Homo sapiens: one gene and its partner. The protein of the gene in region 1 purifies or fractionates together with the protein of each later gene. This does not show direct contact. Each region holds a gene or a part of one and is shown in the gene's direction. Other genes may lie near its edges.

Region 1 (7,268 bases):
CCAGGCTGGAGTGCAACGGTGCGAGCTCAGCTCACTGCAACCTGCGCCTCCCGGGTTCAAGCGATTCTCCTGCCTCAGTCTCCCTAGTAGCTGGAATTACAGGTGGATGCCATGACACCCAGATAAGTTTTGTATTTTTAGTAGAGACAGGGTTTCACCATGTTGGTCAAGGCTGGTTTTGAACTGCTGAACTCAGGCAATCCACCCACCTCAGCCTCCCAAAGTGCTGGGATTACAGGCGTGAGCCACCGCACCTGGCGTCATTACCTTATTTAATCTTAATTACCTCCCGAAGATCCCTTCTCCAAATGCAGTCACATTGGGAGTGAGGGCTTCAAAATATGAATTTGAGGGGAACACAATTCAGTCTGTGGCATACCTTAAGAAGCTAGAGGGGAACAGAATAAACCCAAAGTATGCAGAAGAAGGGAAAAAGTAAAGATGAATAAAATAGAAAAATTAATGAAATAAAAGACTTTTCTCTGAAAAGATGAATAAAATGATAACTCACTGGGTGCAGTGGCTCACGCCTGTAATCCAGCACTTTGGGAGGCCAAGGTGGGTGGATCACCTGAGGTCAGAAGTTAGAGACCAGCCTGACCAACATGGTGAAAGCCCGTCTCTACTAAAAATACAAAAATTAGCTGGGCATGGTGGCGAGCGCCTGTAGTCCCAGCTCCTCAGGAGGCTGAGGCAGGAGAATCACTTGAACCCCGGAGGCAGAGGTTGCAGTGAGCCGAGATCGTGCCACTGCACTCCATCCTGGGTGACAGCAAGACTTTGCCTCTAAAGAAGACAAACAAACAAAAAAATGATAACTCTCCAGTCAGACTTATAAAAAGAGAAAAAAGATGTAAATCACCAGTATCAGGAATGAAGGAGTAGACATCAATATAGATCTTACAGATTAAGATAATATTTTGAATAACTTTATGCCAAGAAATTATACAATTTAGATGAAATGGAGAAATATTTTGAGAAACGCAAACTGCTGAAGATCACACAAGAAGAAAAAGAACCTGAATAGCCCCTATTTCTGAAAGAAATTGAAGTCATAGTTAAAAGCCCTCCCACAGAGAAAGCTGTAGGCCCTGGTGGCTTCACTTGTGAATTCTACCAAACATTTAAGGAAGAAATGTTACCAGTTCTACATAAAGTCTTTCAGAAGATAGAAATATCTCTGATCCCAAAGAAAAATCTAAAGAATCTACAAAGTAAGTTGCCACCTTACTGCAACTAAAAAGTTGTAGAGCGTTTAGTGAGGTGATAGGATACAAGGTCAATATGTAAAGACAGTGTATTTCTATGTCCTAGCCACAAACAATTAGAAGTTAAAATGAAAGTATACCTCACTTCAGCTGATTAAGAACAAGAGTATGAATTAAAATTAGACTGCTTGGGGCCAGGTGCGGTGGCTCACACCTGTAATCCCACTTTGGGAGGCCAAGGTGGGCAGATTACGAGGTCAGGAGCTCAAGACCAGACTCACCAACATGGTGAAACCCCGTCTTTACTAAAGATGTAAAAAATTAGCCAGGCGTGGTGGCGTGCGCCTGTAATCCTAGCTACTTGGGAGGCTGAGGCAGGAGAATCGCTTGAACTCAGGAGGCAGAGGTTGCAGAGAGTTGAGATTGTGCCATTGCACTCCAGCCTGGGAGGCAAGATGAGACTCCGTCTCGGAAAAAAAAAGTTAGACTGCTTGGGTATAAATGGGAGCCCTGTCATTGAGTAGATGCATGATTTTTAATAAATTTTTAAATTTCTATGCTTTGGTTTTATTGTTTATAAACAATTGTATAATCACACCTTTGCAGAGTTTGCAAAAAAAACATACACAGAAAGCCTCGATAGCTCAGTGTCTGCCACAGAGCTGAGAGAAACAGATGTCTACTCCCATTTTACAAACAGAGGTAGAGGAAGTGCCTTGCCTGAGGCCAGGGTTGAATTCTGCCTTCACCCATTTTGTCAGCAACACACTGGTGGAGAAGAGAGCTCTGGTGGGCACTGTTCTCTCAGGCAGGCTCAGAAGTGGGCGGGAGCATAGATACAGCTCCCACAGGGCTGTTTCTGCCACAGACATGGACGTCTCGCTGCCTAATGAAGTTCTATGCTGTGGTGGCCACCTCACCTGCATCTTGGGAGAGCCACAAGATTGCAGAGAGGATAGAACAGAGGATCCTGAACTCCAACCCTGTCATGGAAGCTTTTGGTGAGCTTGGGCTCCTTTGCACAGTATCTCAGTCCCATTTCCTCTGGGATTTTCCACCTTCCAGGGAGAGGGACAGTGCTTTGAGACCCTCTCTTGGGTGGGGGTGGAGGATGAGTGTATCCTTCACTGCCTCAGATCCCCAACCTCTCCCTGGTACTCCTTAGCATCATTCTAACAGAGGTCATGTCATTCAGTCCTCTTCCTCGCTCCAGCCTAGGCACACATAACAGTCGTGCTGGAGAAGACCTGGTGGCTTAGCTCGTCCAAATTCTGTCTTTCTATCCAGTTTCCTGATGGTTCAATGAAGGGTACTTGTTAAGGGATACAAGGTGATTAGTGTTTGTGTTGGCACTGGAACCCAGATGTGCCTTCCTGTCTAAAGTCAGTAGTGACAGCTGATTGTTTTTGACCTTTCCCTTCAAAGAAAGGTCCCTGACTGCCTAGGCTTGCTCATTCCAATTTCTTGCCAGGAATTTCTTCTAACTCCCCTGAATCCCACTTGCTAAAGCATGAGGGCCCATTTTCTAGTCCTGTCCCCTATGACATGAAAACCAACAAAGGGGCCTTTAGGTGACTTGAGCACGGGAACATGACCTCCAGAGACCTGCAGCCACCTTGGCTTATGAGGACTCTGCAAACCCAGGGGAGTGAAATAAACATAGGTGTGATCTGTAGGGAATGCGTGTACACTGAGGAATAACAACAGCAGTCGCTTTGGGAAGTTCATCCAGCTCCAGCTGAACAGGTAATAGCTGCTGTTGCCCTGGCTAGTGGGAGGATGGGACTGGGGAGGTTGAAAGTGGCTGGGGCAGTATCTGGCCTGGGCCACCCCTATGGGCAAAAACCCTGCTCCTCCTGGTGCATGCCCTTTACCTCAGGTGTGAGCTCTGAGGGTGATCTTTGCACCTGGAGAACTATAGCTCCTCTCCCCTTGGGGAACCCTGGGGCAGTGCGCTTATTCAGGCCTGGGTTCCTCCTGGCTTTTACTCTTGCTCAGGGACTTCAAGCTAAATTGCCACCTCTTTGGACCATATCCCTGAGCTTGAGGCTGAGACTTCGACTCCTGTCTTGGGGTAGAGCAAAGTGATGTGCAGAGGCCTTGGCCCTGCCCACCTGAGCTAGATGCAGGGGAATATTCCAGGACACCCAAGGACATTCTGAGTGGTCCCCACCCCTCAGTGCCCATTGGCTAAGTGGAAGAGCTTGGCGGGGAGTTGCCAGGTAGCAGGCAATCTGGCACACCCAGATTGCCAGACATGGCTATGGAATGAATGGGCAACTAACGGGCTCTGGCCTGTGTGTGTCCCAGGGCTCAGCAAATGACTGGAGCCGCAGTCCAGACCTACCTCCTAGAGAAAACTCGAGTGGCCTGCCAGGCTTCCAGTGAGAGGAACTTCCACATCTTCTATCAGGTTTGTGCCAAATGGGGCCACAGCCCCCCAGATGCGAGACAGGGATGGGTCCGTGTTTTTCAACCCCCCACTCCCCAGAATGCTCCATACCTGGTTCCTTCACCTAGCTTTTGATGGAGCCACCACTTTATCCTGCAGACTTTACATGCAGCACTTCTGCCTCACACTGCGCCTTGGCTCCCAGCACAGTTGTGGCCTGGGAGTATGTTTTACCTCCTCCATCAGACCAGAAGGTCCTTGAGGCTGGGACTGTATCTCTAGGGTGGAAGCCGTGTCACTCTTATCATTTTAAGGGCTCTCCTAGAATGGCATCTGTCGCTAACAGAACAAGGGCTTCCCTAGAGTTGTGCCTTTTCCATCGGACTGGGAGTCCCCCAAGGCATGGATAGGATATCTCCCTTTCTCTCAAAATCGGAGCATCCTTAGGTGATGGGTATGCCTCCCACGTCAAGACGACGGACTCCCTGGGCAGGAGTTGTCCTTTTTTCACCAGACTGCAGGTTTCCCTAGAGCAAGGTTCTTTTGCATCAGGTTGGAGACATCCAGGGCTATGTTTACGGCATCTTTTGCCCCCATACCTGCCGTGGGCTCTCGGAAGGGACCTCTGAGCCTTGTGATGTTGCTACCAACTCTCCTCTTATCCCAACCCCATGCCTGCCTATGCAGGCCTGGGCTTTTCTCAGACCCCCTACCCAGCCTCCCACCTACCCTTCTCCACAGATTTGCAAAGGAGCCAGTGAGGACGAGAGGCTCCAGTGGCACCTTCCTGAGGGAGCTGCCTTCTCCTGGCTGCCCAACCCAGAGAGGAGCTTAGAAGGTAAGGGGAGCCCCATCCAGCACCTTGCGCTGACCCAGCATCACCCACCCACTCTGTACAGAGCCTGCCTCCCTCGCATCTTGCTGCTGCTGACCTCTGCCCCGAACTTGGATTCTTTTTCAGAGGATTGTTTTGAGGTGACCAGAGAGGCCATGCTCCATTTGGGCATTGACACCCCTACCCAGAACAACATCTTTAAGGTCAGAAGAAAAGCCACGCCACTTAAGTTTGGCAGAGATGACGGGCAGCCCTTTGCATAGAGCTTTTCCCTGGACTTGGAGTTGGTCTTTCCCTGAGGATCTAGGACTTTGGGCCCTTCTGTGCTACCTCCAAGGAATCAGTCACCTCTGTTCTGCTGAGTCTGGAGACCAGGTGGTGGGGTGGACGGGGCATAAGGAAGAGTGATGCATACACAGTGCTAGAGTACAGAATGCAGTAAGTGATCCATGGGGGCAGAGAGCAAGGTACCGCATGATCAGAAGAGAGAACTAGTGCTACCGCCTTGCTTGTCTAGTACATTAAAACTTACAAGTCATGTTCACACTTCTCTGCTCACTTAGTTTTTTAAACAGTCCTCTGTGTGTGTTTATTTCCCTTTATGCCTGAGAAAACCAGAGAGGTAAAGTGACGTGCCCAAGGTCAGATACCACTAAGTGGTGATACAGAGTACCAGACATAGTAATTCCAAGTTCCTACCCTCTCTGTCTTCCCCCAACCCGTGCCCCGTCGTCCTCTGGAACATGAGACTGCCCCAGGTGAGCTGGGCTCCTCTCAGTCACACTAGGGGGGCCTCCCTTCTGTCTTTGCTGACAGAGCTGACTACCTCCTCTCATCTTCCTCACCCTCTAGAGCAGCAGGAGGGGATAGATAGGATGGCCTGGCAGTCGAGAAAGGGAGGCCACTTCAGGGAGGTAGCAATGCAGTGGAAAGTGACCCTCACCTCCAGATGGGGGCTGCTCAGACACTGCCAGGTAAGAACTTGACAGAAGGACAGTACCTGGGGACAAGCCCAGGATAAGTGGACAACACTGGGAGTCGGGGCAGGAGTGCTTTGGGGGTGGGCATGACCCTCTGCCACAGCCCTTCTGCCTGGTGGGCATGGCAGTCTTCTGGAGCAAGTTGTGGCCGGAAGACCAGTAGCACATGGAGGCACCCTGCCTGGGACCATATAGGAATGGTGGGTGGGGTCCCTGTGTCAGGTCTGAGGGTGGTGGTTTTTTCTTTTTTTTTTTTTTTTTTGAGATGGAGTTTTACTCTAGTTGCCCAGTCTAGAGTGCAGTGGCACAATCTCAGCTCACTGCAACCTCCTCTTCCCGGGTTCAAGTGATTCTCCTACCTCAGCCTCCGAGTAGCTGGGATTACAGGCATGTGCCACCACACCCAGCTAATTTTGTGTGTGTGTGTGTGTGTGTGTGTGTGTGTGTGTGTGTGTTTATTTTTAGTAGAGATGGAGGTTCACCATATTGGTCAGGCTGGTCTTAAACTTCTGACTTCAAGTGATCCACCTGCCTCAGCCTCCCAGAGTGCTGGAATTACAAGCGTGTGCCACCATGCCTAGCTGGGTCTGAGGGTTTTGAAGTTGCTGGGCCTTGGTGGGGTGAGGGGAGCTTCTGTCTATAGCCCCAGGGGGCTTGTCGGTGTGGAACATTGAGTACAAAGGCAAAGGGGCACCCATCGGACACAGACCAAGGTCACAGTGCCTCCAGCAGGCTGGGCTCTCAGAAGCCTGACAGTGGGAAAGGGCTCAAGGAAGCAGAGACAAGCCTCCAGCAGGCACACAGAAGCAGCCCTGCCCCCAGTCACCAGTCTATTCCTAGAGAGCAGGGGGCAGAAATGTAGAGGATGGGTGGGCATGGAGGCCCACAGGCTGCCCCAGGAGACATCTGAAGTCAGCCTGGGTTCTCATCCCACCTTTCCCCTCAGGAAGCACGTGTCCTCAGTCTCATCTCTATCATAGGCAGTGGCGTAGCACATACCTTACAGGTTGTTGAAAAGTTGCAATGAGGCGATGCATGTAACTTGTATAGAATTGTGTCTGGCAGAGATGGGCACTTGGGCCATGATTGGGAGCTGCCCTTCTGCTGTCGTGATTGTACTCAGCAGAACGGCCCTTCCCAGAGTAGGCCCACGTCACGCCCTCTCCTACTCCCACCCATCCTTTTCTTTCCCCCAGGTCCTAGCTGGACTGCTGCACCTTGGCAATATCCAGTTTGCTGCCTCCGAGGATGAAGCCCAGCCCTGCCAGCCGATGGATGATGCCAAGTGTGAGGGTCAGGGTGTAGGATGGGGCAGGCCCTGTCAGGAAGGTAGCCAGCATTGCTGGGGTTGGGTGGAAGGCTGGATGGTGAAAATTGGAATCTGATGCCCTTGCTTATGCCACCCACCATAGGGCCTGGCCCTGGATCATTTACTCCTCACCCTGTCTGGTGAGGCAGACAGTATCGTCCCCATCTTAAAGATGAGAAAATGAGTCAGAGGTTTGTAAAGTGATTTGTCCCATACATGGCAGCATGGACTGGTACATGAAAGTGCTGGGTTTGAGTTCTGACTGCTGTTTATGGAGTCCTTTGGGTGAGTCACTTCACTGATCAGAACTTAGGTTTCTTCTGTCCAGTTGGGCAAGTCATGGTCCCGCTGTGATGACTTCACAGTGCCTCGTGAAGAGGACTGGATGGAGAGTGATTTGCCTAAAGAGGATTTGCCCCTCCCAGACTCTGTCAGGACGGCAGCCTCGCTGCTGGGGCTCCCAGAGGACGTGCTGCTGGAGATGGTGCAGATTAGAACCATCAGGGCAGGCAGACAGCAGCAGGTGTTCCGGAAGCCCTGCGCC
Region 2 (8,108 bases), on another chromosome or scaffold:
CGCTCTATCACCCAGGCTGGAGTGCAATGGCACGATCACAGCTCACTGCAGCCTTGACCTCCTGGGCTCAAGTGATCCACAGCCACCTGAGTAGTTGGGACTACAGGCAGGCACCACCATGCCTGGCTAATTTCTTAATTTGTTGTAGAGACAAGGTCTCATTATGTTGCCTAGGCTGGTCTAAAACTCCTGTACTCAAGTGATCTTCCCACCTCTGCCTCCTAAAGTGCTGGGATTACAGGTGTGAGCAACCATGCCCAGCCCAAAACTCTGACTCTCAAAGAGCATGAGTTTTAAAAGATTTGAAATGGAGAAAAATTTGGTTGAAAAGATTTGACAATTAGCCTATGAAGATGAGTAATTGACAATTACTATAATAACTTTAAGTTTTATGCTACGATTAACATGACTCTCCTTGGACAAAACCATTACCTCATTCAGTAAACAATTACTAAAAGCCTTCTGGGCAGCAGGCCTTTGCAGCCAATAAGATAGATCAGCTAGATCCTGTAACGTGGGAAGGCCAGTGCTATAGGAATAGAAGGACTAGTCAAAGCTAGTCCTTGACCTCTTCAGCATTAGAATCTTAGAACCTGCCTTCATTCTTTGTCTTTTGTTTCTGAATTTTATTCACTGGTTAAGCCAAAATACTTTTTCCAGGCTATGGCCATGGTGCTAAAATCTTGTTTTTTGAATTGAATTTCCATGTCAAGAGAAAAAATTATCATATGCTTTGTTACATCTCTAGTGAAGAACAGATAGCATTGTTTGCACTATATGAAAAACAAGGTACTACTAAAAGGATCTCTTGCAGGGCCCCTGTTTCCCTTTCAGATAAGTGCTTAATGAACCAACTTGCATTAAGAACAATGATGTACCCTGAATGAAATAATTCTCCTAATTTAGTAATAGCATTCTTTGCTTAAACAAGAGTGATTGCCAACAGAAAGGTAAAAGCATCCATTTCAATGGTGTGTTTGACTGAAAAATCAGTCTCAAAAGTTTCCATGATGAAAGTCATACTTAAACCATTTCAAAAGATCTGGCTAGGCACGTTGGCGCACATCTGTAATCCCAGCACTTTGGAAGGTCGAAGTAGGAAGACTGCTTGAAGCCAGAAGATTGACATCAGCCTGGGCAACAAAGCAAAACCCCATCTCTACATAAAAATTAAAAATTAGCCGGACATGGTGGTGGGTGCCTATAGTCCCAGCTACTCTGGAAGCTAAGGTGGAAGGATTGCTTGAGCCCAGGAGTTTGAGGCTGGAGTGAGCTGACTGTGCCACTGTACTCCAGCCTGGGGTGACAGCGAGACCCTGTCTTGAAAAAGAAAACAAAAATCGGACAAAACCAGCCTAATGGGGGTGGCATCCTTATCCACCTGCATATGATGATATGGTCATTTTGATTCCAGGCCCCAAATTTTACTTGATGAAAGAATCTATAACTTGATGAGAGCAGGAATTGAATGCTCCTGGGAAAGAAAGGAGGAAGGCCTGAGCATAAGAGACAAGTAACAGCAAATTGAGAAGGAAAGGAAACCATTTGCTACAAAGTGAAAAGAGGAAGGACAGCAAGAGGCTTAACACCTAGACTTGAGGATCAGATAAAAAATGATCAGAGTTTGGAGAGGTAAATAGAGCCACAAAAACAGTCTTACGGAAACCTAGTTAATTTCAAGAGTAAGGAGGTTGGCAGTGTCCAACACAGAAAAGTGGAGTATGGGAAGGTTTAAATGAGACCCTCCCAGATGTGACAAGTCGTTAGTCATGTTTGCTAGAGTTATTAGAGTTCTGAGTGCAGAATCCATAATGCAGCACAGGATAGTGAATAATGCCTAGGTGTGGGGTCAGGCAGACCTACACTTAATTCCCGTTTGTTGCTACGTCATGGCTCTATAACCTTAAGTCAGTTATTTAAACTTCCTTGGCCTATTTATTCATTTATAAAACGGAAATAATACTGTTGGTTCATATTAGGAACATAATATATAAAGCAGCATTTGTGTGATTAAGAGCAGCACGGATTTGGAGCCATACTTAAGTGAATTGCACCTGCCTATTTGACTTTGTGTTCTTAATTGCCAGTTTCCTCATCTGTAAAATGGCCAATACCATCCAAGTTTCTTCTGAAAATTAGAAGCATGAAAGACAAATGGTCTGGGACACATTAGGTCTCCAAATAGTAGTTATTTTGTTTACGAGTGGGCCAGTGAGAAGGGGCAAAGGGCATATCTTCAAATTCAAGCCTGTTTATAGGCAGAGTAGAAGACAACAAACTAGGGGGGAACAATTAGTGAAACAAAATGGATCATGTCTAAGAGCTAGGATGTGACAGAACCTAGACCACGTAGGATTGCCCTTAGAAAAGTGGATGGATTTCAAGGTAGAATTTCATTAACAGGTTGTTAGGAAGATTTTATAAGACTATGCATACAAATGCCTGTCAGTTTGGTACTAGTGGATTCTGAAATAGTTCACTTTCGATTTCCTGAGCAGGTCCAATATGCCAGACTTGTGTGTGTCGAATTAGGTCCTCTTCACGGGTACAGTTTATTTTTTCTGTCCATAAAGGGATTGTAGTAGCTAATCCCACATTGAAGAAATGCCCAGTTTTCCCATTGCTGCTTATTCGAGTCATTTCCACTTGCTCTTCCATCTTCCAAGTCCCTATATCTTTTTAGTCTAGATTTCTCTGTGTCTGCTCAAATAGCAGGAAATGTGACTTTTCTCCAGTATTTATCCACACACATTTTAGAGTTGTAATGAGTTTACAACTTGTTTTTTCGTTTACTACTTAAATTATATCTCATGTTTTGGCATAGCCACCATTGTTTTGAGTATATTTCTTTTTCAACCATTCTTAACTTCAGTTATCTTTGATGTGGGCATGCTATAATTAACAATTTCCCAATGATAGATATTTAGCTATCCAGCTATTTTTATTAGTGAATAAATTTTTATTCATGATTAAACAAAGCCTATTATAGGCTTTTCTTTTGCATCTAGAGAGAACAATATACCTTAGAATTATTTCTTCAGAATAGTGCTGTCAAATAGAAGCTTCTGTAATTAAGGAAATGCTCTCTGTGCCATACAATAAGGACACTAACCACATGTGGCTATTGAGCACTTAAAATGTGTCTAATACTAGCCAGGCGCGGTGGCTCACGCCTGTAATCCCAGCACTTTTGGAGGCCCAGGTGGGCGGATCATGAGGACAAGAGATTGAGACCATCCTGGCCAACATGGTGAAACCCCGTCTCTACTAAAAATACAAAAATTAGCTGGGCGTCGTGGCACAGGCCTGTAGTCCCTGCTACTCGGGAGGCTAAGGCAGAAGAATCACATGAACCCGGGAGGCAGAGGTTGCAGTGAGCCGAGATCAAACCACTGCACTCCAGCCTGGGCGACGGAGCAAGACTCCGTCTCAAGAAAAAAAAAAGTGTCTAATACTGCCAGACGCACTGGTGCGGTGTCTCTCACCTGTAGTCCCAACTACTTGGGAGGCTCAAGTGAGAGGATCGCTTGAGGCCAGGAGTTCCAGGTTGTAGTGCATTATGATCACGCCTGTGAATAGCCAGTGCATTCCAGGTTAGGCAACATAGGGTGACCCCATCTCTAAAAATAAAACGTATCAAATACAACTGAGGAACTAAATTTAAGTTTAGCTGCATGTGGTTAGTGACGATTGTATTGGACAGCACAATTCTAGAAACTTTTTTTTTTTTAATTTAGACTATCGAACCAAAACCTAAGAGTAAATATTGTAGAACCAGGTGTGACTTTTCAGCAATTGCTTTTCTAACACTATTGAGAAAATACACACAGTTATGAACCGCGTTTAGAGCTGTGCTGCTGGGATGGCGACCACCCCATCAGCATCATGTGTGCTTACCAGAAATTCGAATTATCCTCCACCCCTTACTCACTGAATCCTGATACCCGGTTTTGAGGCTCAAAAATGTTTTTAAAAGCCCTGTTATTATGCGTGCTACTGTTTAAGAACTGCTACAGAGTGCTGAACACAAGGTCCCTCTCTTCTAGGAATTTCTGATCAAAGATTTCTAGAATATAAACTCCCTAAGAGGCTTTGAATTCATCTCTCAGCATCCGGCACATGTTAAGGCAGTAAGAAGAGTTCAATAAAGATTTGCTATTAGATTGCCGATCCTCCACCATCCTGAAGTAATGCTATTTTAGTAATGCTAGATGAAGTAATGCTAGATTACCTCAAGGTGAGGGAAAATATCCTGAAGAACACAGCCACAAACACGATCTAGAACAAAACCTGAAAAACGTAGCTTTGTGTTTTTATTTGTGTGTGCATGTATGTGTGTGCGTTGCCATTTTCTTGATAAAGGAAAGCAAGTAGTTCGAATAAAACTTTCTTGTGGCCAAAAGGGGAATCAAACAGCCGTAGGCTGCGGCCGTAGCCTGATACGGCCGTAAACCTTATGAGGGTAAGCAGAGAGGAGTAGGTTAAAGAATTTAACTCGGGCTGTAATGCGGTTTGAAAAGAGAAAGGGATTCTGGAACGGAGAAGAATCCGCCCAGGCGCCGCCCTCACCTTCTCAACATTACATGAGACGAACCCTAAAACCTGTCTTGTCTGAAATTCAAATTTAGAAGAACTGTACTTTTACTTGCTACATCTGGCAACTCAGGGTTCGGCGCCAGGGGACCCCAAATCCTAGGCGGATCGCGCCCCGCCTGGGTCAAAGGGGACCCCAAATCCTCGGCCGATCGCGGCCCACTCGGGTCAAATTCCAGCGGCCTGCCCAGCCGCGCCCAGCGGGCCCAGGAATGCGGAAGGGTGGCGGAGCTACCAAAGGAGCGGGGGACGAGGGCCGGGCTGCGGACGACCGCCGCAGCGCAGGCCGCGATATCGCAGCGGATCGGAGCAGGCCGGAGGGGCAATTAAGACCCCGGCCGTGTGCGTCCGGCCTCAGCAGCCCCGCCGCTCGGCGGACACGCAGACCCCGCCGGCCCGGGCGCGAACACTCAGCGCACCCCCGTTCCACTTGGTCCCGCCGCGCCTTCCGGTGCGCCTTCCGGTGCGCCTTCCGGTGCGCCTTCCGCTCCGCCCCTTCAGGCAGGAAGTGTCGGCGCCGCCACTGTCCGGCCACAGCCTAACGCTCTTCGCTGTCGTTTGTGGTCTCGCGCAGGGCGGCCCCGGTTCTGGTGTTTGGCGTCGGGTGAGTCGCGCTCGACTCTGCTCGCGAGACCCCTCGGGCCGCCGTCTCCGTACCCCCGCGCCCCCTCCCGTCGCGCGCCTGCGGCCGGACCCCGCCCCAGGGCGGCCAGGCGGCGGCAGGACCTGTCAGACTGGCTGAGAAGGGGGCGCGGGGCCGGAGGTGGAGGGAGGAGGGTTGGCGGCGGGAGGAGGGTTGGTGGCGAGGCCCTGGCCCGGACGTCCAGGGGCCGGGAGGCTGCAGGCGATGGAGCCGGTATGGGGAGACGCCCTGCTGGAGAAGTGGCCGGGTCCCGGCCGTGCGTGGGCCGGCCCTGCGCCACCTGGGTGACCTCAGACACCTGGGCCTTGGACGGCCCGGCTGCCCGGCGGCCAACGCCTGCCCTCCCGGCGCCGCGGCGGGTCCTGGCGGTGGATTGGGGCCGACCCGGGCGTGTTCGTGTGGAGCACCTGCCCTGTGCCCAACACTATCCTAGATGCTTTGGAGGGTGGAGGAGCCTCCTGTTGCACGGTCTTGCCTAAGGTGAAGCCTCCAAGGAAGCCATTAGCATGCCGGTAACCGAGTGTGTGGTTGATACGGGCTCAAATGTGATGATTTACATAGAGTTGTAATTCGCTCAGTGTGTCTTGCATCTTGTAAAGGTTTAGTTTATTCGTGTTGATTGAAGAAAGGACCATTAACAGAAATAGGGAAAGGTTACTTGGAAAAGAGTCGTGACCTCACTGAAGGCCTTGGATTCAACCTTAAGAGGGAGAACTTAGCGTTTCCGGCTAGATGTGTGGGAGGTGGTAACGAGCAAAACTCAAAAGCTGGGAATTGTGTCCTGTGAAAAGCAGGCCGTGGGGACACCGGCGGGTATGGAACAGAACTGTAATGACTAATAGTCGGAAATAAGGGTAGATAGGTAAGTAGGACCTTCTTATGGATGTCTTGAAAACTTAGGAGAAAGAAAAGATTATCTAAGAAGCCATAGAGAGTAATTTTGGAGTCTTCACTAACGGAGTAATAAGAAAGGGATGTTTAGAGGATTCGTTTGGCCGCTTTAGTTTAAGGTAGATTTGGAATGGTCTTTTGGTAAGAGAAGAATCAAAGCATTTAGAATTCAGTAGGACCTGATAGATTACCTTGTGAAGGCTTTGCGTTTTATAACTGAGGAAAGTGAAACCCAGAGAGGTGAGGTAATTTGTCGAAGGTGGTGGACCCTCCTGGACTTTATAACTAAGAGCACTTTTGAGTGCTTTAGGCTCTTTTGAGTGAAACAGCTTTTATGATGGCTGACTCGATGTTCGTTTATGCTTTGATGAAACTAAGCTTGAACAAGATGAACTGCAATTTCTGAAGGACAGATGTCCAGACAAGAGTTGCTAGGGTTAGGAAAGAACAGGATTTAGAGCCCCGACATGGGGCTAGTTTTCCCTTTCTCCCAAGATTCAAAGGCTCCAGGTATATCTGGGGATGAGTTTATCATACCCTTTTTGCCAGCATCTTTGTGATCTTCCTTCCTCATTCTACACATTAGCTTTGGGGTGTCATTGCTTGTTATGCCCAGGTATCCACATTTTCATGGTAGAGAATTTCAGCTGCCTGTATGCAGGATGTTACTGGCTAGTGGTTCAAGCTCTGGAGCTAGATTTCCTGAGTACAGATCCTGACTGAGCTCTGCCATTTTCTAGCTGTGTGGCAAGTTGTTTATTCTCTTTACCCTGATTTTCGTATCTGAGAGAAGAGGATGATAACAATACCTATATGATGAGTTGTCGTGAGGATTAAATGTGTTAACACATACAAAATGCTTAAATCAGTGCCTGGCACATCTTTAGCACCCAGTTGTCCCTGGTTGCTACTGCTTCTTCCAGGTATGGAGCAGTGGGTAGCTACTAAGTTTCCTTAGGGATCTCTTGGGGAAGAGACTGGAACCATAGGTAGACCGTAGAGAAAAGCCTCATGTTGGAATTCAGATCCGGGACCTACCTTGTAATGAACATATATGTGTAATTCTGTTTGTGACAGGAAAGAACTATATATGTATATACACTATATACAACTGTGTATACTATACATATATTTATACATATATATATGTATTTGCTTAACTAGGATTATTTGAGCACCTGCCATGTGCAAGGCACACTGCTAAGTTCTGCAGTCCAAGGTGGAAAGGCAAAAGGCAATAAAAAGAATGAATATGGCCAGGCATGGTGGCTCATACCTGTAATCCTAATGCTTTGAGAAGCCAATGTGGGGGGATCATTTGAAGCCAGGGGTTCAAGACCAACCTGGGCAACATAGCGAGACCCTGTCTCTACCCTGCCACCCACTCCTTGCAAAGTAGCTGTGTATGGTGACTCATGCCTGTAGTCCCAGCTGCTCGAGGCTGAGTCAGGAGGATCACTTGAGTCCAGGAGTTCAAGGCTACAGTGAACTATGATTGTGCCATAAACCCAATAAGAGAGGTGAATTTCAAAAACATTGTATTGAATGAAAGAAGACAGGCATATATATGAATATATACTGTACAATTCCATTTATAAGAAGTTCAAAAACAAAACTAATCTATGGTGATAGAAATCTGAACAGTGGTTGCCTATGGGAGATGGTGATTAACTTGGAGAGAATTTTCTGGAACAGTGTTAACATTTGTAACTTAATGGGGGTGATGGTTACATGGGTATACACATTATAAAAACTTATTAAGGTTTGTACATTTGACTATATAAATTTCACTGCAGTAAAACAAAATGATATAGGAGCTCAGAGAATAGAAAGTTTGCAGCCAACTGTAATGATCATAAAACCTATAATAGAGAAAGAAATGTCATTGTTATAATGTGTATGTGGTAAGTGTTAAAATACATATAGAGTACTAGGGGAAATGCTTCCCTGGTGTTAAAAAAAGTTGAAAAAATTGAGTTTG

Evidence for each region.
Region 2: the proteins of MYO19 (region 1) and MYL12B purify together in Homo sapiens (co-immunoprecipitation; 2 studies listed by BioGRID and IntAct, with this or other methods). This does not show direct contact.

The regions. Positions count from the first base shown.
Region 1 is NC_000017.11:36,510,799-36,518,066, reverse strand, and holds part of MYO19 (unconventional myosin-XIX), read left to right. Parts: intron 1-2,076; coding exon 2,077-2,209; intron 2,210-2,884; coding exon 2,885-2,954; intron 2,955-3,518; coding exon 3,519-3,621; intron 3,622-4,341; coding exon 4,342-4,438; intron 4,439-4,561; coding exon 4,562-4,638; coding exon of another isoform or gene 4,639-4,698; exon of another isoform or gene 4,699-4,981; intron 4,982-5,183; coding exon of another isoform or gene 5,184-5,193; intron 5,194-5,287; coding exon of another isoform or gene 5,288-5,409; intron 5,410-6,611; coding exon 6,612-6,702; coding exon of another isoform or gene 6,703-6,708; intron 6,709-7,149; coding exon 7,150-7,268. UniProt on the Homo sapiens protein: Actin-based motor molecule with ATPase activity that localizes to the mitochondrion outer membrane. Motor protein that moves towards the plus-end of actin filaments. Required for mitochondrial inheritance during mitosis.
Region 2 is NC_000018.10:3,257,041-3,265,148, forward strand, and holds the start of MYL12B (myosin regulatory light chain 12B), read left to right. Parts: upstream 1-5,092; 5' UTR 5,093-5,197; exon of another isoform or gene 5,198-5,319; intron 5,320-5,572; exon of another isoform or gene 5,573-5,744; intron 5,745-8,108. UniProt on the Homo sapiens protein: Myosin regulatory subunit that plays an important role in regulation of both smooth muscle and nonmuscle cell contractile activity via its phosphorylation. Phosphorylation triggers actin polymerization in vascular smooth muscle.